2 separate regions of the Homo sapiens genome follow, and region 2 is linked to region 1. The links come from fine-mapping of genetic effects on plasma protein levels. Region 1 holds a variant in brackets. A gene starts in the other region. All regions are shown on their reverse strands.

Evidence for each region. PIP is the chance, under the fine-mapping model, that this variant and not a neighbour inherited with it causes the effect. Protein levels are from antibody-based Olink assays in UK Biobank. Linkage for the fine-mapping came from a reference panel and not from the study's own genotypes, which makes the PIPs less certain.
Region 2: it holds the start of MB, and the variant in region 1 is fine-mapped to the plasma level of the MB protein (UK Biobank, PIP 0.99).

What each region holds. Positions count from the first base shown.
Region 1 is chr14:54,762,727-54,775,050 of GRCh38, reverse strand. It overlaps SAMD4A (sterile alpha motif domain containing 4A), which reads right to left. Exons shown (of 13, transcript NM_015589.6): 8 at 10,511-10,596; 9 at 4,829-4,947; 10 at 1-117. Among named protein-coding and RNA genes, the nearest start is that of SAMD4A-AS1, 81 kb to the right of the region's middle. RefSeq lists enhancers at 725-774, 648-1,576, 860-2,059. The variant G/A (reference allele first, on the strand shown) is at 6,487.
Region 2 is chr22:35,611,551-35,623,874 of GRCh38, reverse strand. MB (myoglobin) reads left to right here and starts at 6,546. Exons shown (of 3, transcript NM_005368.3): 1 at 6,546-6,712. The coding sequence starts at 6,618. RefSeq lists enhancers at 339-633, 1,292-1,807 and a silencer at 11,786-11,835.

The DNA.
Region 1 (12,324 bases):
AGGCGGGCGGAAGGGACGTTCCGAGAGGGGATCTGGTACTGGCGCGGGTTCCGTCTGCCCATGCCACCGCCCACAGAGCCAGCCGTCGGGAGGGAGTTGGATTGCCCAAAGCCTCGACTGTGAGAGCCAAGAGAGAAGGAAGAGAATATCAGTCGTTATTCAGCCCTTTTTAAGCCACAGGCTTCCCAAGGGATGTCGCCTTGGAGGTCTCCTCATTTTTTTTTTTTTTTTTTTTTTGAGTCAGGGTCTCACTCTGTTACCCAGGTTGGAGTGCAGTAGTGAGATCTAGGCTCACTGCAGCCTTGACCTCCTGGGCTCAGGTGATCCTCCTATCTCAGCCTCTGGAGTAGCTGGGACTACAGGCATGTGCCACCATGCCCAGCTAACTTTTTTTTTTTGGTAGAGATGGAGTCTCACTATGTCGCCCAGGCTGGTCTCAACTTTTCAGGCTCAAGCGATCTTCCCAACTCAGCCTCTTGAGTAGTTGGGACTACAGATTTTTATATTTTTGGTGGAGACAGGGTCTACCATGTTGCCCAGGCTGGTCTGGAACTCCTGAGCTCAAGTGATCCTCCTGCCTCGGCCTCTCAAAGTGCTGGGATTACAGGCGTGAGCCACTGCACCCCGCCTCTGCTCACATTTTGACAGTTATGAAGCCTACAGGGAGCTGTGTGCCAGCAAATAACTATAATTAAAACAGCAGCTAACATCTGAGAGGCGGTATCACATGGAACTTCCTGGGACTTCGACATTATTTTTCGATCCTTGCAACAACCCTATGAAGTAGGTGCTCTCTCCTTTGTAGCTGGAGAAGTAAAACAGCGCGTAATCCTTGTGCACAGGTCACACAGCCAGCAGGGGGCAGCGCTGGCACGCAGGCTCAGCAGGTTCACCAGCACTCTGCCTGCCGCCTTGCGCCTCCCTACCGCATCTTCTCCAACCCATGCTGCTGCAGATGAGGACACAGGTCTTGAACACTCACATGCTTTTGAGAGGCCACATAGCAAGAAAACAGCAGAGTCAGGGTCACAACTGGTCTGACTCCTGTCCCAGGGCTCCCTTCTTTAATCCTATCATTGTTTCTGCTCAGCCTGTCTGTGTGGCGGACTTGGAGAAGCCTGTGAGGCCCACCAGGATGTAAGCTCCATGTCTGTCCTCATCCATCCTGCATGTCCGGTGCCTGAATCAGTTTCTGCACAGTGAATGCAGTTGAATGAATGAACCAATGAGTCTCTGCCATCATGACGCATCCTCAAATGGGAGAGCTGATGCCACCTGTGGGGCGAGGGATATAAGGTCGGAGATGATGTTTGCAAGTGTTCTGGACCTAGGACACAGACTGCCTTCACTTCACAGGCCCTCCCTGCAAAGTCGGCTGCATAAGGGCCAGGGCAGGTCCATGCTTCTCCTGGGTCCGGGCAGGGAGGCTGCCAGAGCCCTTAGCATCACGTGCAGATGCCGGCGCTGCCGTTGGGTTGGGTGACCTCAGCACTGAAGAACGCATCCTCTCTGACACGCCTCAGGTCCGGGAGGTTATACAGCAGCCGGCAGGGTTTCAGGAACCAGCACATTCTTTCCAAGAAGAGTCAGCTGTAGTCATTCACGGATGTTGAAGTCAAAATGTTTTACCTCCAGTGGCCACAAGATGGAAGAGATCTGCTTTTCCAGCGACACAGGGGAGGTTTGTACCAAGCCTGTGGGGAGACTCCGGGAAGCAGGGCTGACGTAGTTTAACCAGTTGAGGGTGATAGGGGCCTGCAGAACAGTCATTTCCTGAGAAAGAGAGCTGTGCCTGTATGTAGGGGGAGGGGCATCTGAGCCAGCAGTGCAGATCTCAGAAAATGTTTCTCTTCTCCCCAGAATTCTTAAATTTCCTAAGGGGAGAAGTGGCAGGAAGGAGAATTCTGGGCTTGTGCCTTTCTACTTCCAGGCTTTGGTGGCCAAGGAAGGAGTTCTAGATTCTGGTCAGAAGCTCATCTGAATGTGGTGAGGAGGACACTCACAGGTTCTTGGTATCTTTGTCTTGGCCTTTCTTCCTTTTTTCTCCCATTTTCCCTTTTAAAAATTTCGTTTTCATTTTTACGAAGGCTTCAGATTTTTTGGTTTGAAGGAAGAACTCAGGGCCAGGAGGGGTAGAATAAGTTTCACATGATGAGACCTCCTTTGGAGGAAGGACAATCTGACTACGTGAGGTAGAGACAAGGGCCGAGTGTTTTTTTTTTTTGTTTGTTTGTTTTTAATGACGAAAACTAGTCCTTTGAGTTCTGAAGTCGGAATTTTGGCCACCTGGTAGATGATTCAGTATTCTGCTATGATTTTTCCTTATTTAGCGTGGATAGCGTTTTCTCACTTTCCTTTTTGGTTGGATTTTTAAAAAGTTATTTCATATGCAAAATACAGAGTCAATGAGTGATGCTAAAATGATTTGTGTTTCCAGGAAGGCAAGACTGAATTCTTAAGCAATATAATGTGGGAAGAGGACTCTGTTATGGGATACTTATAGTCACTGGAGAAAGGAGGGATCCAGGGACTCTTAGGACTCAGCTGTATAGGGGAGGGGAGTAGGACGTGATGAGGGGAGAATTTGGCTAGGCCATCTTTCTCTCTCCTGATGGGACCCTTCGAGGGTTATTACAAAGCCAGCTTTGCAGAGGGTTGCCACTGCTGGCAACCAGAGTGAATGCTTGGGTTACTTAAGATCGCTAGGCTTAATGAAATCATCAATGCTTTCTGGGGAGAGAACAAAGTGACAAAAGCAAGTTTTCCTTTCTCATTCTCTTGCCTTACCTTTCTAAATCTGATTTCATTACACTGAAATGTTGAAATGCATGAAAAGTCTTTGATAAAGTAACATTAATAAGAACCAATTAATTTGGGATTTGTGATAATTCAAGCAGGGGTTGGGTTGCAGTTACCTTTGTATTATTGGAGAAACAGGTCTTCAAAGCAAATTAATAGCACAAAAAGATCCCAGAGGAAATACTTATGAGTATAAAACATTTTCCAGCCTTATAGTAACATCCAGTTGAACATCCACAAGCGATTCATTCTTATCTAATCAATTAAAAGGGGTCCATTAGGACTCCAACCTGGCAAACCTTGGGTTAGCCCAATCCAAGTGTTACTAACAAACACCCTGGAGAGGTCAAGGTTCATGTCCCCTGCTCCACCTCCAGAAGGCTCTCGGATGTGGACCAATGACAACACAGGGCTGACAGAGGCCAGGGTGGGACTTTGGGAGGAGCAGCAAAGAGCCGCCCCATCTTCATCTCCAACCTCCGAATGCCTTCTTCCTCTTGGAACTTGTCTCCCAAGGGCCTGGTGTTGCAAGAGGAGTCTGGAACCTTTTCTATTCACCTGGGAAAAGTATTGCTGCTCTCAGAGAAAAGCCACTTGGGATGGGGGTAGGCCCCAGGGCAGGAGGCCAAGGAAGCAGACCTTGCCTTTCATCTGGGCCATCGGGAATCCTCAGGGCAAAGAGGTAGTCTAGTCCAACCCACAAGGGTTGGCAACCCCAGAGGGCTTGGGGCCAGGGAACTGGTCCTGAAGAGTGTCGCTTTGCCTGAACAATCTTTTCTGCTCATCATCCTGAGACCATGAGAGTTGCCTGGCTTCCATAGGGTTAAAAGCATGGAGCTGGAGCTGGTGCCAGCCTGCCTGGTTCAAATCCCCAATGCTGCTGCCTATGAACTTGTCTGTAAATGGGGTTAACAACAGCAGCTCTACCTCACATGGTTGTCATGAGGATTAAATGTATTAATATTCTTAAAGTGCTTGGATACCACTTGGCATATGTAAGTGCTAAATAAATGTTTGTTTAATAAATAACCGTTATATATGCTGGAATGTGATCACACTTCAGTGTTAAAATTAATCTTTCATGAAGTCTTTTCACAAACTTCAACTGGCCTTATCTCCCTTAAATCCAAAATAGTGATGTTTTAAGGCACGCTTACGCAAATAAATGCCCAAAATTTTAACACCACGGGCAGAGAGCTTCTATACATGCACCGAGAAATGAAATGAATTCAGACCCTTTCAGGTGCAAGTGAAGAAATTATCTGCTCATGTTTTAAAAGTGTAAAATAGAATGTTAATTTTTCAGGATGTTTACATTCTCATTCCCTTATGTCCCAACAATTCCCTATCATTGTTTAAGGCTTAACCCTTCCTCTACCCTTAATTTCTCCCACAAATTGTCACTGCAGTTCATCTTTAATATGTAATTGGATTCCTCAATTTAAAACTATATTAAGGTAATGGGTTCTAAAGTACAACCAGGCTTATTTTTAACTGCGTGCAAGAAGCTGAAGTACTATGGAAAAATCAAGAATTGTACTGCTCCACTATGAGACTGCAGACCAAAATAGACTAGCACTGGGCTCTTCACCCTGCCACCAACTATAATTAGCTTGTCTACAGCACGAAGGGGGAAAAAAATCACACTACCACTTAAGGTGCTGATTGATAGAACAACCCATTTTTATCCTTTCAGATCCCCCTTTTGTGGGTAAGCCATCCTGTGTTTTGCCTGCATTTGTTAAATCATACCCACTCTCCCCTCTGATACCCATCCGGACTATTACCATCATTTTGACAATGCAAACTGTGTTACAAAAGCTCACATTCAGCTCTTCGCCTGGGAATGCTCACTCTCACAGCCTTTTCCCAGCCCCACCTGTTTAAGCAATGCAATTTGGAACTCGCCACAGGGCATCTTCGTGAACAAGGAATGGTGCCCTGCCATATTCCTGCCCCAGGAACCGAGGTAGGCAACAAGGCGCCAGGGGAACCACTACGCATTACAAAGAATGAAATCCCAACATACTTTCTTTGCTGTCGATATCCTGATATGTCTAGAAGGGTTTTCCGAGGGAAAGACCGAAAGAGCTTCTGCACCTGCTGTTTCCATGACAACAATCTTTTTTTCTGTGTCTCTGTAAATGCCTGCAAAAACAAACAGGACTTTTAAATGGGTGACGCAGCCTGGCATTAGAGGGAGAAACATGCAATTAATAAGGGGAAAACATTGGAGTCTCTGCAGTTGCCTTTTCTTCACCTGTTTCTAACCTGGTCCAAACGTAGTCAGTTTAATTTGGGAGCTGCCCTATTTTGAAAATTTAAGTTATCTGACATTGGAGGTGCGTGATAAGGTACACGCATCAAACTGTTGACAACCCTCATTTTTGGTGACATTTCTGGCAGATCCATATCCACATTCCCCCTCCCTCCTGACTCCACTCCAGACTCTATTTATTAACCAAGAATGAATTGCAAAATTGATTGTTGAATACTCTGGCTTTTGCAGGCCCCCTGCATTTTCATAATCAATGAAAATTCTCAACCACTCCAAAAATCAATCTGCTTGATGGTGTGTGGGCACCCTAGAGTGGTCTACAGGGTGTCAGAGAATGGACTATATTCTCTGTGTTTCAGGGCTTTGCTGAGACATCTCCAGTTAATGGGTCTCTTGCCTTACAAAAATTCCAGTGTACCAGTCCTGACTTAAACCTTCTCTAAAGTTTAGGGAAGTATGTAGGTCTGATGCCTGCAGAACTCTTTTCTAGCAAAACTGGTGTGTGTGTTTTGCCTGCTGCCTTGTAACAAACTCTTACCTATGTTATATTTCCTTTTGCGTTTAGCCTTTGTACTTGCCACAGACTAGGAAAGGACTTTATGTGGGTTAGGAGTCTCCAAGGCAGGAACTCTCAGATTCATGATATATTAGAATCACCCAAGGAGACAGTCAAAATTCAGATACCTGGGCTCCCTTCCACATGCCCAGAGCCTGATTTAGTAGATCTGAAGGGGATGTCTAGAGAGTTTGTGTTTGTACCAAGTGCCCTGGTAATTCTGCTGCAGGTAGAGCATGAACATGAGGTGTTCTAGATGGTGAGGACCCCACGTCACATATGAATCCCCTGCCAAGTGACTAGAACTGTAACTTAGAACACGTGCTGTGGGAAATCCATGTGATTTGATTGATTCACAGTAACAAGGAGGGAGAGAAGTTTCCGAAGCAGTTTTGTCAATAGGGCATGAATTCCTTTAAGTAGTCATAAAATATTACTCAGTAACAGACTAAATGACTAGTTCCCATAAAGGAAACAGATTCCTTAAATGGAGAAAAAAAATGACAGCTTAGTTGTCTCCCAGTGATGCTGAATCTTTAAGGACCTAAATACCAGGAGAACTCTGTGGACAAAAGCAGAAGGATGTTAATCATGTGGCAGAAACGTCATTGAGGACTTACAAACCCCTTCTTCCCGGGTGACCTTAGCCAGATGCCATTAAGAATATGCATCAAGGTGGGCTAGGAGGCGAGGGCGTGGCTCTCCTCCACAGTCCCTCTCATTGGTTGGTGATGCTCCCTGCATGTCCAGCTACACACGAGTACCTCTGAAACTGGGCAAAAGGCAAGCGTTTCTGCTGGACTAACAGCGAGAGGGGATCATTTCTGCTTTTGACTGGCTTATTCAGCCACAT[G/A]TTGTGTGAGGACACATGTGGGCATGCTGGTCAGGGTGACCTGGGGAGGAGAGTTGTGGGCCAGAGGAAGGCTCTGGATGCAGATGGGCAGGGCTCGAATCCCTGCACGCCTTTACGCATGCCCCTCTACCCAAGACTCAGTGCCTCCTAGAAACTGAGGATAATAATATCTCCCTCAAAAGGATGTTGTGAGAATGAAATAACACATGAACAACACTTAGAATACCTGGAACGTGCCTCGCTCTTAATAACGGTTCAAATAGATGCCACTCACAGGTGTCACACTGGGGTTTTGTTTTGGACTGCACAGACCGGCCGTTTGGTGGTGGTATACGGCTGTTCATCGCGTTAAGTATTCAACATGACCTTGAGCTCCAATAGCACACAGCAAATGACTTCAAGGTCTCTAAACTATAATACTGAGCTGGTCTGGTGCCAGCCTGAAGGACAACTGGCCTGAGTTTCCAAGTGACAACGGAGTAAAGGGCTCATTTCATGGATGTGCTTCCTAAGACATCATTACAGACATGACATCTTCCCTGGTGGCAAACAGCATCCAAGAAGGTGGGAATGTTGGCGCCTTCCTGGGGAGGTCGGCGCATTCCCTGAGCACCTCAATGGGCAGCGGGCTCCTTTCCTTCAGGGCTGCAGATGGGAGCCAGCCCATTAGCAGTGCTGAGTGAGAGTGGGGGCCGGTTCTCAGCTGGGGATGTGGTGCTCGGTTGTGGCTGGCTTCAGGAGTTTCTGAACACTGGTTCCTGGCCTACAGGGGAGTGCTCAGTTATGGGGGATCTGCATTGGCTATGATGCCCAAAATCTCACTGCAGCCCCCTCCGCTGGCAGCCCCAGGTTGGGCTGGGGAGCAGCTTCCCAAGGGGCCTGGAGGGGAAGGGAAGGCTTCATGCCCAGCAACTGCCCAGGCACCCCTAGTCACCACTCCAGAGTTCTGGCCCTCTCAGGCCTAGACCAATGCATCTGTCTGGAGGAAGATGGCTATGGTGTCCCAGCATATGTGGCTGGATGAAAAGGTTCATAAAGCGGCAAGAGCTCATCTTCTCAGAGCCACCTCAAGACACAGGGAAGTGCCCAGAGGCCTGGGATTATAATTCAGGAGTCAAAGTGACTGGTCTCAGAAGTAAAATTCAGAACTTTCCTCTCCTTCCATTCATGACTCTGGGGACTCGGTCCCTCCATCCCGGGAAGGAAGGGAGGTGTCCTGGCCCACTCAATACCTTCCCTGCTCCCAGCCAGCTAAGGAACAGCGTGTCCGGGCTATGAAGGGGCGTCCTGTCTCTCTGTGCCCGGGTGAAACTTCTTCCAGGATGGAGGCTGTGCGCCTTCACGGGGCCTCACAGGCAGGGCGTGTTCTACCCACACAGAATAACCGGAGGCTGTGGAAAATTATTCAGACAGCTTTTCCTCTCTCTCAAAGTAAAATCATAAAAAGCCCTGAACAACATTTTCCCTTCCAAAGCAGCACGCAGGCCCCTCCATCCTGACATGAACTTAGCAAGCAGACACCTCACCAGCTCCTTCCTGACCGGGGCCCCCAGCCACGAGAGGCCCCTCTGGGCAACCAGAGGAGATCACCTGGGGCTGCACGGAGGTCAAGGGGAAAAAACAAAACCAGAGCCAGGGTACCAAGGGAGGACATGCAGGATGGCAGGCAAGCAGGAAGCGTCAGGCCAGAGTTTCGGGGCTGCCGAGGGACAATTAGGAAGCCTGTGGATTGTTTGGCACAGGTAGCTGGAGGACTCACGATTTCTGTCTCATGGGCTCAGCTGTCTTGAGGCAAGGTGGACAGTACCTTGTCCTCCAATATCAATGCTGAGAGCAGGCGTGGGAGAGGAAGCAGAGTTCCGGTGTGCTTTTATCAGAGGCTGAAATCCTCCCCATTCCGTCTGCCCCAAGCCACCCACAAATGTCCTACTTCTCAACAAAACACGGAGCCCTGCAGACATCACTCTCTTCTGCCTCCTTACGAACCGAGTCTGTACCACCAGGACTCTCGCTTGCCTTTCAGGTCTCAGGGTGGAGAGGGTTCCTCCACGGAAATGCCCTGTTCTGGCTCCAGGTTTGGTGCCCGCTGCTGCTGCTCCTCTGTGCTCCAGGGCACTCAGGGATGACCTTATCAGAGGCTTTCTCATCATGGCTGTGATGGCCTGTTTCTTTCTGTCTCACCCCTTCTCTCACTACTGTAACCTGCCTAATTCTCTCACTACTGTAACCTGCCTAGGTGCTCAGTAAGTATCTAGGGAATGGACGAGTTGTAACATTCTTCACTGTGTTCTTGCTTTCTCTTCCTTTGTCGCTTTTTCCTGGCCAAAACGAGTCCAGTGTCAGGATTCGAAATAGAAAAGGATTAGTCAAGGCTTGTGGGGAGAAGGCCTTGTCCCTGAAACAAAGTCACAAATAAGCCTTCAGTACGGGCTTTTGACAATGCCTGGGTGCTCTAGGGAAGCCATTAAAGAGGGAAAAAACCATTTTTTTTTCAGTGAAAAGTCTAGTACTTTGGTATAGTTAAACATTTCAGAGGATGGCGTGTCTGAGCCCCCAACCTAGGCGGCTGGTCACTGTAGTCACACTGACAACTTTGGCCAGAGCCGCTTGGGCACATAAGAATCCATACGGCCAAGAGGAGAAACTGCAAAAATGAGGGTTTGGGGAAGTGGGGAAGGGGGAGCTGGGATGGAATCCCAGAGGGGGACTGTACCCTTGTATGTGAAGTGTGGGTAGTGGGTGAGGGCCGTGAGAACTTCGATAGCACAGGGCCCATGTGACAGCTGGAAGGGTGAGAACATGAGAGGGAAGTGGAGAAGGGGCCTGGCCGCTGTGCTGGGCGTCTCCCTTCACCGGACCCTACTGGACTCCTGGAGTACTGGCTGCCCATGCAGCAAAGGTGAGGAGGCCTGGGGCCTTTACTATTTTTTTTTTTCCCCGAGACAAGTCTCACTGTGTTGCTCTTGCTGGAGTGCAGTGATAGGATCATAGCTCACTGTAGCCTTGGCCACCTGGGCTCAAGCCATCCATCCTCCCACCTTGGCCTCCCGAGTAGCTGGGATTACAGGTGTGCGCCACCACACCTGGCTTTTTTTTTTTTTTTTCGTAGTGACAGGGTCTTGATATGTTTCCCAGGCAGGTCTCAAGCTCCTGGCCTCGAGTGATCCTCCCACCTCGGCCTCCCAAAGTGTGGGGATTACAGGTGTGACCCACCACCCCGGCCCCCTTACTATCTTATTCTCACATCGAAATCCTACAAAAAGACTTCACCATCCTAGGTTTATCTGGTCCCAAGTTTTCTCTAGTCTAGGCCTTGCTGCTGTAGCTCTTTGTGGGGAGGGAGGGGTGCCCAAGGAGCCACTGGAGTTTTAGGTCTGAGGTGCAACTCCCTCTCCCTACATGTCCCTTAGGGACAGCCACCAGTGCTGACGGCTGCCTAGCCCCGCCATGCCAAAGGGTCTATCTCACTCTGTATATGAAGACTGTGCCTGAGGGTCCAGTAGGCACACCTGCAGCCTGCCTCAGGCCTCCTCCAAAAGGATATGTGGCAAATACGATTCCTACAACAATCGCAAGCCCAAACACACACACACATATACACATTCATTATTTCTTTATGGGCTCTCTTTCTCCCTTCCTCTCTCCAGTTCCCTGAGCTAAAAGGCAAGAGTTCAACACAAGATTTTTAAAAGACCTGACAATGCCCAGGGCTAAGCAGCAGGGCTCATGTGTTACCCTCTGAGGCTTGGCCACCCGGGGCTGCTTCCCCAGCCAGAAGTCGTTGCAGGCGTTCACTGCACATCAGAACACTCAGTCTGGGCAAATCTTTGGACACCAAAGTAATGTTCAAGCTGTGTTTGGGTTTGAGGCTGTCATAGCCTAGTTCTGCCCAACCTATTATTAATAACTGTCCACCACTCAAAAACAAGTTGTTGGAGGCTAAAATGATCACATCACAGAAACTCTGAGAACCATTTCTAAGCAATAAAAAAAAAATGGTTTTGTAAAACCTGTCACTACTCACCTCATGAATTAGACACTTGTCTATGAGCTGTAAATAGGAACTTATATTTTCCTCATCAGGTCTGGAGACCAAGAGCTGTGTGCACACTGTAATTAAAAAGAAAAGATGAATTAGAAAAATGCACCCCTTTCTAATCTCTGGGACCTGACTCTCATTTCCCTTCAGGTCCAACACTCTGAGAGGTATGTGTGTCTGTGGCTTTATGTAAGGCTCACAAAAAAGGCCAAGAGGCTCCTCATTCCACAGAAGTCAAAGGCTGGGTCACCGTGGGAGCCCTTGTCTCGAGAAGCCCCTTGGGTTAATTCCAGTCATGCCATTCTATATGAAGCCTTCTGCAATAAGACACTGCAATAAGAGGAAGAACACAGCAGTGAATAGTGGCGTCCTGAGCTTGGTCTTTGAAAGTGGCTCTGTGTGAGGGGCTTCAGAAGTATCCAAGACCCTGACACTGTCAGAGAGCAGCCTCCGTGATTTTATGAATGAGCGCACACCCCTCGCCAGGTGCAGAGACAGCGGCGTTTGTGTTTGGAGGAACGAGCTGGCACCTCCTGGAGACGGGGAGGTGTGTGGGTGTGCACATGTGCAGGAGGCCTGCTACTCACTCCTCAGAGGGTTGCTTTCTCAGAGTGATATGCACATTTATGCACACACAGGCGCAGGCTCACCTACACACTCAAGTCAGTGCTAAATAGGATGGAACAGAGTTAGTCTGCGGGTAGAGTATACACACGCACTAGGTTTCTCACGGCCATGTTACTGTGGCCCATTCTGGTCTCATTGTAGAGGTGACGATTCCCCGACTTTCTTAGTCATGTGTACAGGGCCACAGTGGAGATGGGTGGACAAAAGGAGTCAGCCAGAGAGTAAAAATGTCTGACACTCAAGGAGACCAAGCTTGAAACCTGGCATCATACTTGATTCCTCCCTGTCCCTAACCCTGCATGGCTGATTGGTCACACAATCCCATTTATTTCTTGCCTTTGCACATACACTTTCAGTATAACATTGTTTGTCATAACAAAACCTTGTAAACTACCTCACTGCCTATTAATTGGGACTTTGTTAAATACATTACGGTTTATGCATACAGTGGAATAGTATGCCATCTTTAAAAAAAACTTTGAGATGGCGCTATTTGTACTGATAGAAATATTGTAAGTATATATACTTTTTAAATTTTATTATTTTGTTTTTGAGAGACAGGGTCTCACTATGTTGCCGAGGCTGGTCTTGAACTCCTGGGCTCAAGTGATTCACTTTGGCCTCCCAAAGTGCCGGGATTACAGGCATGAGCCACCGTGTCCGGCTATAGTATTTTTTTTTAAACCCACCAGCCTGTAGAAAAGAATGTAAATAAGGCCTGCGTGTGTATAAAAGTGAATATTCGGCTGGGCGCGGTGGCTCATGCCTGTAATCTCAGCACTTTGGGAGGCTGAGGCGGGCAGATCACGAGGTCAGGAGATCGAGACCATCCTAGCTAACACGGTGAAACCCCGTCTCTACTAAAAAATACAAAAAATTAGCCAGGCGTGGTGGCGGGCGCCTGTAGTCCCAATTACTCGGGAGGCTGAGGCAGGAGAATGGCATGAACCTGGGAGGTGGAGCTTGCAGTAAGCCTAGATCGCGCCACTGCACTCCAGCCTGCGTGACAGAGCGAGACTCCATCTCAAAAAAAAAAAAAAGTGAATATTCATGTGCTTATGTATGATGATGAAGTTTCTGAAAGGATATCCCAAAACTTAATAGTGACTATCCCTGGGAATGAGGATGGCAGGGTTTGGGGTTGGGGGAGGGTGGTTTTCCACTTTCCACCA
Region 2 (12,324 bases), not on the chromosome of region 1:
CCATGTTGGCCAGGCTGGCCTTGAACTCCTGACCTCAAGTGATCCTCCCTCCTCAGCCTCCCAAAGTGCTGGGATTACAGGCGTGAGCCACTGCGCCTGGCCAGTGCTCCCTTTTTCAGTCCTCATAGTGACATTTGAGGTAGGTTATTCTTTTCAAAATTTCCATTTTACAGATTTAAAAAAAAGCGCCCTTGGAAAGTTATGCCACTTTTCCTGGATCACAATATTAAAAGATCACAATTCATCTTCTAATAATTTGGCAAGCCATCCATGGTCTTCTAAGCAAGGCGCCATGAATATAACGAATATAGAGACAGAAAAAGACCCCTCCCCACTGGCTGGGTTGAGGGACTGGAGAGCCCAGATGGAAGGGCAGAGGTGCAGGCTTTTTTCCTTGTTGCCACTAGATGGCAGTAGGGCACCCGTTGTCAGCCCTGGGGCAAGGTCACCGACTGTCTTTGCCTTTGCCTCCAGCAAGCCAAAACCCTGGGCAGACTCAATCCAAAAATAAACAATCAAAGAGCATGTTGGCCTGGTCCTTTGCTAGGTACTGTAGAGCAGGTGAGAGAGTGAGGGGGAAGGACTCCAAATTAGACCAGTTCTTAGCCATGAAGCAGAGACTCTGAAGCCAGACTACCTGGGTCCCAATCTTGGGCTTGGTATTTCCTCGCTGTGTGACTCTGGGTAAGTTACTTAACTTCTCTGTGCCTCAGTTCTCTCAAGTGTAAAGTGACGCTTGTAAAAGTGTCTCCTGCAAAAGAAAGGGCTGCTGGGAGGAGGGGTGTCCCTGGTGTGCACTAAGTACAATATGAGTTTGTGGCTTTTATATTCCTGCCTCTGAGGCACTCACAGGGTAGAAATGGGGAGAAGCCAGTCCAGACAGGTGCACCCCAAAGCAAGAGAGATGAGAAGGCTGCACCCATGCTGGAGCCAGAGTGGGGAAGAGGGCACATCTGCTGGGAATGGGTAGAGCGGGGTGGGAGGAGTCCTGGCAGGGGAGCCGTTCCTATGCAATGGGCCTTGAAGGAAGGGGAGGATGGGTGGATGTGGGGTTAGGTGACTGTGGAGGCGGGGCTGGTCTCTGTCCAGGTGACAGGTGGATGGTGGAGCTGGAGGAGCCACTCGGAGCCTCCAAGGCTGGGGAGGGTGGAGGGGGGAGGCAGGTCGGTGTCCCAGGCCACACCTGTTGACTAAGGGATTAGGATGTTGTGTCCCTGCCAGCCCTCCTCCAATAAGCCCCTCTGGGCCTGCAGGGAGAGGAGGAGCCTTGCCATGTAAACTGTATTTTTAGTTCCCTGTGCCTCTCCCCGGCTGCTATAAGACACCTCTCCCCACCCCCAGCCCTGGCCGCTTGGCTGGAGGCTCTGCGAGGACAGCTGGGGAGAAGGGGAGCTGTGGTCAGTATGATGGATGCTGAGGGGCTGGAGAGGAGCAGCCCTGGTGGGTGGGTTCCTGGGAGTCTGGAGCAAGCTTGGGGGTTCTGCTGCCCCATCAAGGGCCTTGAGCAGGTCCTGCAACTCCCAGGCCTCAGCCCTGCTCTGAGCCCTGGCCTGGCGCTGGTCCAGGAGGGTAGACTCTGCCAGGGAGGCACAAGCTAAGCTGGGGGTGGGGTGGGAGGGCCTGCTGGCAGGAGGGAGGCACTGCCCAGACTGGCCTCCAAAGGCTGGTTCCCAGAAGGAGGAGGAAGAGAGTAGTGAAGATCGTGGGGAGTCCTGGCTTTGAGGAGCCAGAGTTCTCCTTCTTGCCACATCTTTGATCTCCCTTGGTGGTGTCTTAAGCCCAGATTTACCAAAGGGAATTGTCAGCTGTCCAAGGGCTAGCAAATTCCTAGGTCACCTAGATTGGATTTTCTGACCATAAAAACTGTGGGCCAGGTGCACAGCTGCCTGAGGGGCTCAAACCTGTGCAGGTGGGTGCTGGAATCCCCTTTGCTATAGCGTTCTCTTTGTGTGCATGTGACCAGAGGTGAGAGTGGCTGGAGACCGAAGATGGCAGAGCCCGTCTTTCTCCACCAGACTGAGGCCCCCGACTTGCCTTGCCTGGGGAGGGTGCTCAGTGGAAGTCCTGGGATGTTCAGTCTGGACAAGAAAAGTCTTGGGTGAGCCTGCTCCTTCTCTTGTGAGGCAGACTCAGCTGGGCCTCTATATCCCCAAGGAGCAGGCGGAGCTGCCGCAAGGAAGTGCACGTGACATGGAGGCATCTTTTGGTTCGACATAAAAAAGGATTTTTAAAGCTTTAGGTAGTGAGCTCACCACTCCCAGGAGTATTCAAGCAGATGCCAGATGATGATCTGTAGGGAAAACTATGTTTAGTGGGAAATTGGACAAAATACCGTTGAAGGCCTCTTTTAGTCACAAGATACTATGGCCCTATAATTCTAGATTTCTCTGCTTCTAGCTCTCTATAAGTCTGGAATCTAGAACCCAAGTTTCTCCGGTGCTGAAAAGTTGAAGACTTTGACACTCTAGAATTTTAATTCTGGGATCTCAAGATTCCAGAATTGGGAGCCTTGAGGATGATTCTACAAGTCTCAGTTTTGGATTCAAAGGATCCTGTGATATGAAAGGGAAAAAGAGGAGGTCTGACTTGGTGGGATCCAGTTTTGCCCCACTGGGTATCAGACTAATGTGCCCTGCATTCGTGCGTGTGTGTGCGTGTGTGTAGCATGAGCGTGTAAGGCTGTAGAAAGTTTTGCACACAAAGGCAGCCTGGCTTTCCTATCATGTGTCTGCAGCTTCTCTGCCCTGGCCATAATGAAGGCTGTCACAGGGATAATAATAGCCCCCAAACAGAGCTGGTGACTCCAGGTAGCCATAGCAACTGTGAGGTAACGCTGCTCTGTTGTAGAGATGTGTGAGTACAAACAGATGTCGGTGCCTTCCCATTAGCTTAAATGGTAAAACTTAAAAGGTCCATCAACTTCAAAGCTACAGGTTTCCATGAGCATGCCAGTTAATGGGGGCGCTTGCCAAGCGGGTGATAGCTTCATATTAAACATTTCAGCATCAGTAATGGGTTGATGAGATTTTAAATGCTCAGGCCATCCCCAGACAACTCAGGAGGCCAGAGACGGGAGAAGAGCTGGGATTCGGGTAGTAATCAGCCCTGCCCTGCCCCGCACCCTCAGGGGTGTTCTGACACTCTCGGGAGGGCACAGGCCAGAGAGCATTTGAAAACCGCACATTGCGTCTCAATCTCCAGGAGTCTCAGATCTGCCTCTTGGCCTTCCCCAGCGCACCAGGCAGGGGGCCCCAGGTCAGATGTGGCACAGCTCAATGCCATCTCCTTCTTTCTGCCCTCCTCTCTCACACCCTGGACTCACCTCCAGCGAGTGACCAGCAGTAAGGGTCAAACTGCTGAGAGTCTGAGACCGGGGCAGACCCTCTCAGAGTTGTCTTTCCTTCTGAGGCTGGGCCTGGCACAGACTGGGGCCTCAGTAATGGGCTTTCAAATGAATGAATGAACAAAGGAACAAACAGATGACTGACTGACTGAATGAATGAATGAGATCCCCTTTGGCATCCCCATGGCTTCTTTTTTTCTTTTTGAGATGGAGGCTCGCTCTGTTGCCAGGCTGGAGTACAGCGATCTCGGCTCACTGCAACCTCTGCCTCCCGGGTTCAAGTGATTCTCCTGCCTCAGCCTCCCAAGTAGCTGGGACTACAGGTTCGTGCCACCATGCCCAGCTAATTTTTGTATTTTTAGTAGAGACAGGGCTTGAACATGTTAGCCAGGATAGTCTCGATCTCTTGACCTTGTGATCCACCCACCTCAGCCTCCCAAATTGCTGGGATTACAGGCGTGAGCCACCACGCCCGGCCCCCCATGGCATTTTAGCTACTTATTTTGTTACTGCTTCTTCCACTGCTAAAGAGATGGGCCTTTGGAGGTCGGCTGGCCTAGCATTTGGGGTTGACTTCTGGAATGGTCACTAGGGAAGGGGCGCCAGAGGTGCAGCCGGTGCCTCTGACCCTTTTGGTCGCTAGGAGTCAGCCGACTCAGTACACAGGACTCACTGAATGGAGACACAAGGCTCCTCCAGGGAGTGGCGGCTCATGGCAATCCTAGAATGGTCACCAGCCAGGCTTTAGAGACCCACACAGAGGGCGTTCTGACCCAAAGTTGCACTGGGGAACTCCAAGTTTGGGGATTCTTTGAATTTAACTCTTTTTCTAGCTACATTTCCTATTATTTGTCCAATTCTTACCAAACATCTCTGTTCACATTCTGAAGCTGGGATCTGACTGGCAGAGCTAGTAGATGCTGACTATTCAGATGGAGCCCTGACATTGGCTTTCTCAGCTTGGCTGTGACTGGCAGCAGGTTTGCGGGAGAACTGTGTGTCCCAGAACATGACTGGCTACACCTGCACCTCAGCAAGATTGGGGCAGGGCAGTTATCTTCAAAAAGCTGTGTAGGTGGGGCAGTCATTACTGACAAATCCAGTGCAGACCCAGGATGGCCCAAACACTGGCTTATCCTTTCTGAATCTCATCTCCCACAGCTGTAAAGCGGGGTGGTGCTCGCTACCTCACAGAGGTGTTGTAAAGATTAGATGTAATCTTGCCAAGCAGCCACTTTGTAAACTGTATAGTCTTATGCAGATGGAAGGAAGGGCCTGTGCCTACCTTGATCATAGCACTAAACAAACTGTACTGTATTTTCATTCCTCTTAGTTATCTCCCTAAAAAGACTCTGAGTTCCTTGAACACAGGAAGGTGTTTTATTTGATTTTGTTATCCTCAGCATGTAGCAGTGTCTGACACACAGTAGGTGCTCTATCACTGTGAGAGGGATGGATGGATGGGTGGAGTTACAGATGGATAGAAGGATAGATGGAGGGATGGGTGGATGATGGATGGATAGATGGATGGAGGGGGGATGATGAATGGAGGGATAATGAGTGGATGAATGAGGGAATGGGTGGATGGATGGATGGAGGGATGGAGGAACAGATAGATAGATGGAGGGATGGGTGGGTGATGGATGGATAGATGGATGGAGGGAGGGATGATGAATGGAGGGATAATGAATGGATGAATGAGGGGATGGGTGGATGGATGAATGGAGGGATGATGGGTGGATGAATGAATTGAGGGATGGATGGATGAACACATGGATGGATGGATAGATGGATAGATGGAGGAACTGGTGGATTTTGGATGGATGGGTGGATGGATAGATGAATGAATGCCTGGATAGACAAAGAGATGATGGATAGATGAATAGATGAATTAAGGGATGTCGGATAGATGGAGGGATTGATAGATGTTGGATGGATGGGTGGTGGATGGATAGATGAGTGAATGCATGGATAGACAAAGAGATGATGGATGGATGAATTAAGGGATGACAGATGGATGGATGGATGAGTAACTGGATGGACAAGTGGATAAATGGATAGATGGTTGAATACCTGAATGGATTGAAGGAGGATGCATGGATGTAAGATAAGGCTAATCATCCTCCACTCTCTTTCTTTGCAAAACCATCCACCCATTTACTCAATAAACATTTATTCAGTTCAAACTTGGCACAAAGCACCATGTGAGGCCCAAGAGATACGTGGGTTAATAAAACAGAGCTCCTGCCCTCCTGAAAACTGCAAAGAAAGGGGCGTGGCTTCCTGAGTTCAAATCCCAACTCTGCCAGCGACTAGTTGTACATCAGTGATGTTTCCCTACTTTCTCTCAATTAAATAGGGATAATGTCAGTACCTATCACATTGGGAGGTCTTGCGGGGATTAAATGAGTTACCAAATGCCAAGTGTTTGGGACAGGGCCTGGCACCCAGCAAAGTCTCTTGTGAGTGCTGGCTGCTATTATCCTAATGGAGAAGATGGCATGAAAACCAGGAAATAGGATGCCCTTTGGGAAGCAATGCAACAGGAACTTACACAAAGAAAGGAAAGGAGGAAGCAATTAGTGGTGTCTCAAAGGAGTATGTCAAGAAAAACTTTTCAGAGGGAAACCTTTGAGCAGGGTCATGAAAACAGGAGTTCTCTAAGAGATTGTGGACTTGCCTGGGACCACCTGGCTATAAGCACAAAACCATCCGGTTCCTTTCTGTCACTTCTGGCTGGGTGAGGGGTCTCTGGCAAAGGGGCAGAAGGTGCGTGAGAGGTTGCGAATGGCCAGGACTGTCCTGGGGCCAGCCGGGGCACCTGGTGGCCAAGCTTAGAAACATGACAGGTCCTCTTGGGAGGGCTGACCGCAGGGAGCGTTGGGTTTCAGGCTGCTGGCGTCGGCTTCTGTGGTGCCCTTTCTGTCGGCTATGAGAGTCCAGACAGTGCCCAACCTCCTCCCCTTCTTTCCACACGCACAACCACCCCACCCCCTGTGGCCTGAGCTGTCCTGCCTCGCCACAATGGCACCTGCCCTAAAATAGCTTCCCATGTGAGGGCTAGAGAAAGGAAAAGATTAGACCCTCCCTGGATGAGAGAGAGAAAGTGAAGGAGGGCAGGGGAGGGGGACAGCGAGCCATTGAGCGATCTTTGTCAAGCATCCCAGAAGGTATAAAAACGCCCTTGGGACCAGGCAGCCTCAAACCCCAGCTGTTGGGGCCAGGACACCCAGTGAGCCCATACTTGCTCTTTTTGTCTTCTTCAGACTGCGCCATGGGGCTCAGCGACGGGGAATGGCAGTTGGTGCTGAACGTCTGGGGGAAGGTGGAGGCTGACATCCCAGGCCATGGGCAGGAAGTCCTCATCAGGTAAAAGGAAGAGATTCCATTGCCCCTGCCACCCACACCCTAAGATCAAGGGTGTTCAGCTGCAAGGTGGAAAGTTTGCACGTGGGGTAGGTCAGTTGGCTGCATTAGTTAAGGGTGTTAGAACGGTCACTTGCTTTTTCTTTGCTTTTAAGTGTCAGGGATTGGACTCAGGAGAGGGAAAGGAGCCATTTCAGGCTGATGTCAGCAGCTGGAGGAAGCATGAGAATCAAACCTAGGATGCTCAGAGTCCACCAGGAAGAATTTTAGAATTATAGACAGTCAGAGTTAACAAGGGTCCTGAGAGATTTTGTACAGCCACCTCTCTTACAGGATGAGGACAAAAAGGGACTGAGAAGGGGAGGACATTTCCAGAGTCACAGCTCATTAAATGCTCTTAAAGTGTCAAGGTTAAGACATGCTCTTCAAGGGGAGACAGATCTGGTTCTAGACTTGGCTCTGCCACTGAGCCACTGGGTGACCTTTGGGAAAGTACTCAACCTCTCGGAGCCTCAATTTCCTCTCCTGTACAGTGAGGGGATATCCTAATATCTATATCCTAGAGGAGATGTGAGAATTAAATAAAATAATGCATGCAAGAGGCCTGGCATGGTTCCTGGCATATACTGAGTCCTAGAAATGTTAGTAGCTATTACTGATGAAGCCCAGGCTAGGGACCTTTCAAAGCATTGCAATTAGAGAACAGAAGATAGAGGCTCATTAGTGACCTTCGATGTTGAGTATGTCTCTAGTTTGAGAGGTCTGAATGATGTGGTCTGCAAGTATATCCTGCCTTCTACCACAAGGGATTCCAGAATACACCAAAGAAAACAAAATTCTGAGGTTTGTAAATAGAGGGTGGCTGTGGTTTGTACATAGAAGCTCATCTCCTCGTTGCCTTCTATCCCAAAGGTGATACACTCTTCTCTTGGCCCCTTCCCTCACCATTCTGAGCTGGTTCCCTCAGAAGTCTAATAGGTTAAGAATCAACGTTTCTGCCAACGGGAGGAAGGAAGTGGGCGCCGGGGTTGCCACAAGTGAATGGATTGTCTTTGGCACTTTAATTTGCAGATTAATTTCTCCTTATTTGTGAGCCAGAGCCAATTTTCCTCTTCCACTCCGTCGTCCTTTGGGTCTCCCTTGGGCTTTACCCATTTCCAGCTTCCGTCTACCTCGGGAGCATGGCTGGTCCTGGAAGCTCCGTTATCTAAAATTTGAGCCGTTGGTGATCCGTGCTAGAAACACTTGAGGAAGAAGAGTTGAGTTTTCTGTTGACTGTAATGGCATCGTAGTGTGTTTATGTCTTTCTTCTCCTGTCCCTGTCATCTGGCTGCAACAGGCCCTGTTGGATTGCACAAAGTGCTCCCCCGACCAACACACACACACAAATTGACATCAACTCCTGGGCCACAGATATGCCATGTGACCTTGGACAAGTCTCTCCACCTCTGGGCCTTATTTCTCTGCTGGTTGAGCGAAGGGATTGTCTTCCATGGTCTCCGAGATCCCGTCCCACGCTCATGCCCTAGAATTCTCTGAGTCCTTGATGCACTTTTGCCTTTGGCGAGGAGGCAGGACAGTCAGGCGTGGAGGTAGGAGACCAGAGTTTGCAGAGCAGAGGTCTTTCCAAGGTGATTTGGGAGCTGCCAGACCTAAGGCAGTGACTTGTACGTCTTGAAAGAGACTCAGGGTGTTGCATCATCAGGGAGGATCACGGAGGTTTGCCGGGGGCCGGGAGCCAGGGATAAGACATAATGCCTAGGGTTGCTGGTCCCTGAAAGGTCCCAGAGGCCTGGTGCCCTGTCACGTCTTAGGTTGTGGGACATGCAGAGACTGTGCCAGCTGGTTCTGCCCTCTCAGTATTTGGGGTACAGGGAGGATGGCCTCCCTGGGGGCAGGGTGGAGGAGGCTCATGCCCAGGACTGCAAATGCCACCCGTGAGAGTTGGCATCTTGACTTTGTTCTAGATACTGACTCTGGATTTTCTAACTGACCTTGAAAGGTTATGTCTCCAATCTTCTGATTGTAAAAGAGGGCAAATTCCATGAAGCCCAGTCTGTAAAACACTGAGGCCTTCACTGCACGTACACAAACATAAAATTCTAGAACACAGAAGCTGGAAGGTCACTTGGAGATTCTGGCTCCAGGAGTGGGGCTTCGGAAGGGAGGGGGCTGCTGAGTGGGCTCCACACCCCTGTTTTTCCTTTCTTTACTCAAACCTTTTTTGTTTTATTTACTTTGGCTGTTTTGGGGAGCGGGGGGAACAAAGGATTTCAAGGTCATAAAATGTTTGAAAATCACCAGTGGTGGTCACTACTTCTCATTACAGGGAGGAACTGGGCCTGAGAGTCTCCACCGGTTAATGGCAGCCACAGGCAGGACCAAAAATTCCTGGGTGATGGTGATGATAATGATAATGATAATGATAATGGTAGAGATGATGAGGAGGAGAAAGACAGCAACCATTTATTCAGCACATACTGATTGCTGGGCTCTGTTTAAGTGTTTCACTCACTGAAGCCTGACAACAATCTTATGAGGTAGATATGATTATGATCACCACATTTAACAGAGAGGTTAAGTAACTTACGCCAAGTCACACAGCAAGTAAGAAAGGAGCTGGAATTCAAATTCAGGCAGCTTGGATCCAGAATCCTTGCTCCTTTTTTTTTTTTTTGAGATGGAGTCTTGCTGGGATTACAGGTGCATGCCACCATGCCTGGCTAATTTTTGTATTTTTAGTAGAGACTAGGTTTCGCCATGTTGGCCAGGCTGGTCTCGAACTCCTGACCTCAGGTGATCTGCCCGCCTTGGCCTCCCAAAGTGCTGGGATTACAAGCCAATGAGCCCGGCCCAGAATCCTTGCTCTTGACCACTATGCTATACTGCCCCATGACCTTGCCACACGCAAGACGGGCTGCCACCCACGCTCTGGTTCTTTTATTCTAGTAGAGCCAGAGGGGTGTTCATGGATCTGACAATGTGCTCCATGTTCCATGTGAGTGTCCAATTGGGCCTCAGTTCAGAGAACAGCAGGAAAATGGCCTCCCTTCTCTCTGACTTGGACTGAAGATCTGTCTGATGAACCAGGCCCACTGACAGCAGGGTTGAAGCTGGAAACACAGGCCAGCGGGGCTTTCTGAAATACTAGAGCAAACGCCCTCCGTCCATTTCCACAGGCTGAGGGGCTTTCATCTGTTCATTTTCCGGATCAGGCAAATCCAGGAGAATGGCCTTCTGTGGCTGCCTGGGGGGCTCCTAGCTGCAAGGCCTGGGCCCACAGGAGGCAGGCAGCTGTGTGGTGCCGGAATGATCTTGCGGGGAGACAAATTAGCCCGATTCTGCTCTGCTGTTTAAAGTAAATATGGGGTGGGGTGGGGTGGCTCAGGCCTATAATCCCAGCACTTTGGGAGGCAGGATCGGGGAATCGCTTGAGTCCAGGAGTTCGAGACCAGCCTGAGCCACATAGTGAGACCCCCCTTCTCTACAAAAAATAAACAAAATTAGCTGGGCGTGGTGGTGTGTGCCTGTAGTCCCAGCTACGCGGGAGGCTGAGGTAGGAGGATCACTTGGGCCCAGGAGATTGAGGCTCCAGTGAGCCAAGATCACACCACTGCACTCCAGCCTGGGCAACAGAGCAATACCGTGTCTCAAAAAAATATTAATAAAGTAAATATGAGCTCTCTCCCTGGCTGTCTGGTGTTGAGTGGAAAGAAAGGCATTGGCGGGTCTAGACCCTTTTGGTTTACATATGGATGAGCAATGATCCAGAGAGGCTAAGTGACTTCAACATCACAGAGCACATTGGCGCCAGAACTGGGACCGGAACTCAGCTTCCGTAACTGTCAGTCCCATGTTCTCTTCCCTAGATATCAGAGGGCAGGGGCAGGCCCCAAAATGTCTGAGACCCCCAGCTGCCTTGTGGCCCAAATTCTTGGCCCTGCTCTGCCTCAGACAGTCTGCTTTCAGCGTCCTGACCTCTGACCATCGCCTGTGCATGCCAGGTCTTGCATCTGTCAGGCGGGAGTTCAAGGATCATTGTCGCCAGATAATAATAGTCAGGAGCTCAGGGACCCTTGGATGAAAGGTGTCAGAGACAAGCCGTCAGTGACGCACGAGGATTTGGATAAGGTCCTGGAGCGAGGTGGCAATGTTGGGCACGGCGGCAGACCATGCCCAACATGGGGGAAGGGAGTGTATGTGGTTCAGGCTTGTGCGTGTCTCTGTGTGTGTGTGCAGGTGAGTATGGCGTGTGCTGGGATATATTTATGTGTACCTCTGTGTGAGTGTGCAGGCCCATATGTGAGTGTGCACACACATCTGTGAGAGCCTGCATGCATGTACACGTGTGAGGTGTTGATACATGTCCATGTAGGTATCAGTTTGCCTGTAAATATCTCTGTGTAACAATAACAAAGTCCGAATAGTCATCAAGAGTATAGACATGAAGCCAGACTGCCTGGGTTAAATCCCCAGCTAGTTAGTCTTTCGGTGCCTCTGTTTCTTCCTCTGCAAAATGGCGTCTACCCCATCAGGATTTTAAAATCAGTTAATATGGCTGGGCGCCTGTAATCCCAGCACTTTGGGAGGCTGAGGCAGGCGGATCACAAGGTCAGGAGATCGAGACCATCCTGCCTAACATGGAGAATTCTGAGAATTGCTCAAACCCAGGAGGTGGAGGTTGCGGTGAGCAGAGATTGCACCACTGCACTCCAGCCTGGGCAACAGAGCCAGATTCCATCTCAAAAAAGAAAAACAAAAAACAAAAAAACCATGAACTCATTTTCAGGTTGAGGAGCTCAGCATCCTGGTTGTGAAATACCCTCCTCATAAAACCCTGGGATGGAGACTACGGGGATCAGGTGCTTCCTTGTGACAACTTCTGGGCATGGTGGCTCAGGGCGCAAACTGGAGTGTGGCCACAATACATACTGTGTACTTTTACAAGGATGTCACAGAGCCTGGGTATCATAAAAGAGGAGCTTTTCAAGGAACTGAAACCATTAGACAGGAGAGAGAGCCCTGGGCAGACAGGGTTGCCCGTGCCAAACATTTCAGCTGTGGCACAAGGGAAAGGGTGGGAGTTATGAAACTGTTCCATTTTGGGTTTAGGTCTGGGCTCTGCCGCTAGCTAGCCAAGTGACCTTGGCCACTTATCTCTGTGGTCTTCCATGAGTAAAAGGCGGAAACTCACTCCTACCCAGAGGGCAGGTCTGACTCCCTTTAACCAGCACCCACCTGCTCACAGCAGGAAGGACTGAGGTCTAAAGCTGGAGGTGGGCAGGAAGGACTGAGGTCTAAAGCTGGAGGTGGGCAGGAAGGACCAAGGTCTAAAGTTGGAGGTGGGCAGGAAGGACCGAGGTCTAAAGCTGGAGGTGGCTGCTCAGAGTCCCAGCAGAGGCCTCTGGGGCACCTCACTGAGTGCCTGGCAGGAGTGGGTGCCTGTCTCAGGGCTGGGTTGAGTTGCTCCCACCAGGACCCTTCGTCATCTGCACAGTGAGGGGACTGGGAGGTTCAGAGAGTCACAGCTTGGGCTCAAAACAAGCAAGAGGTTTCTGAGTGTGAGGATTGCTCTGGAGTGGAATGGCCCTCACAGGTAGGAGTGAGCCTCCTGT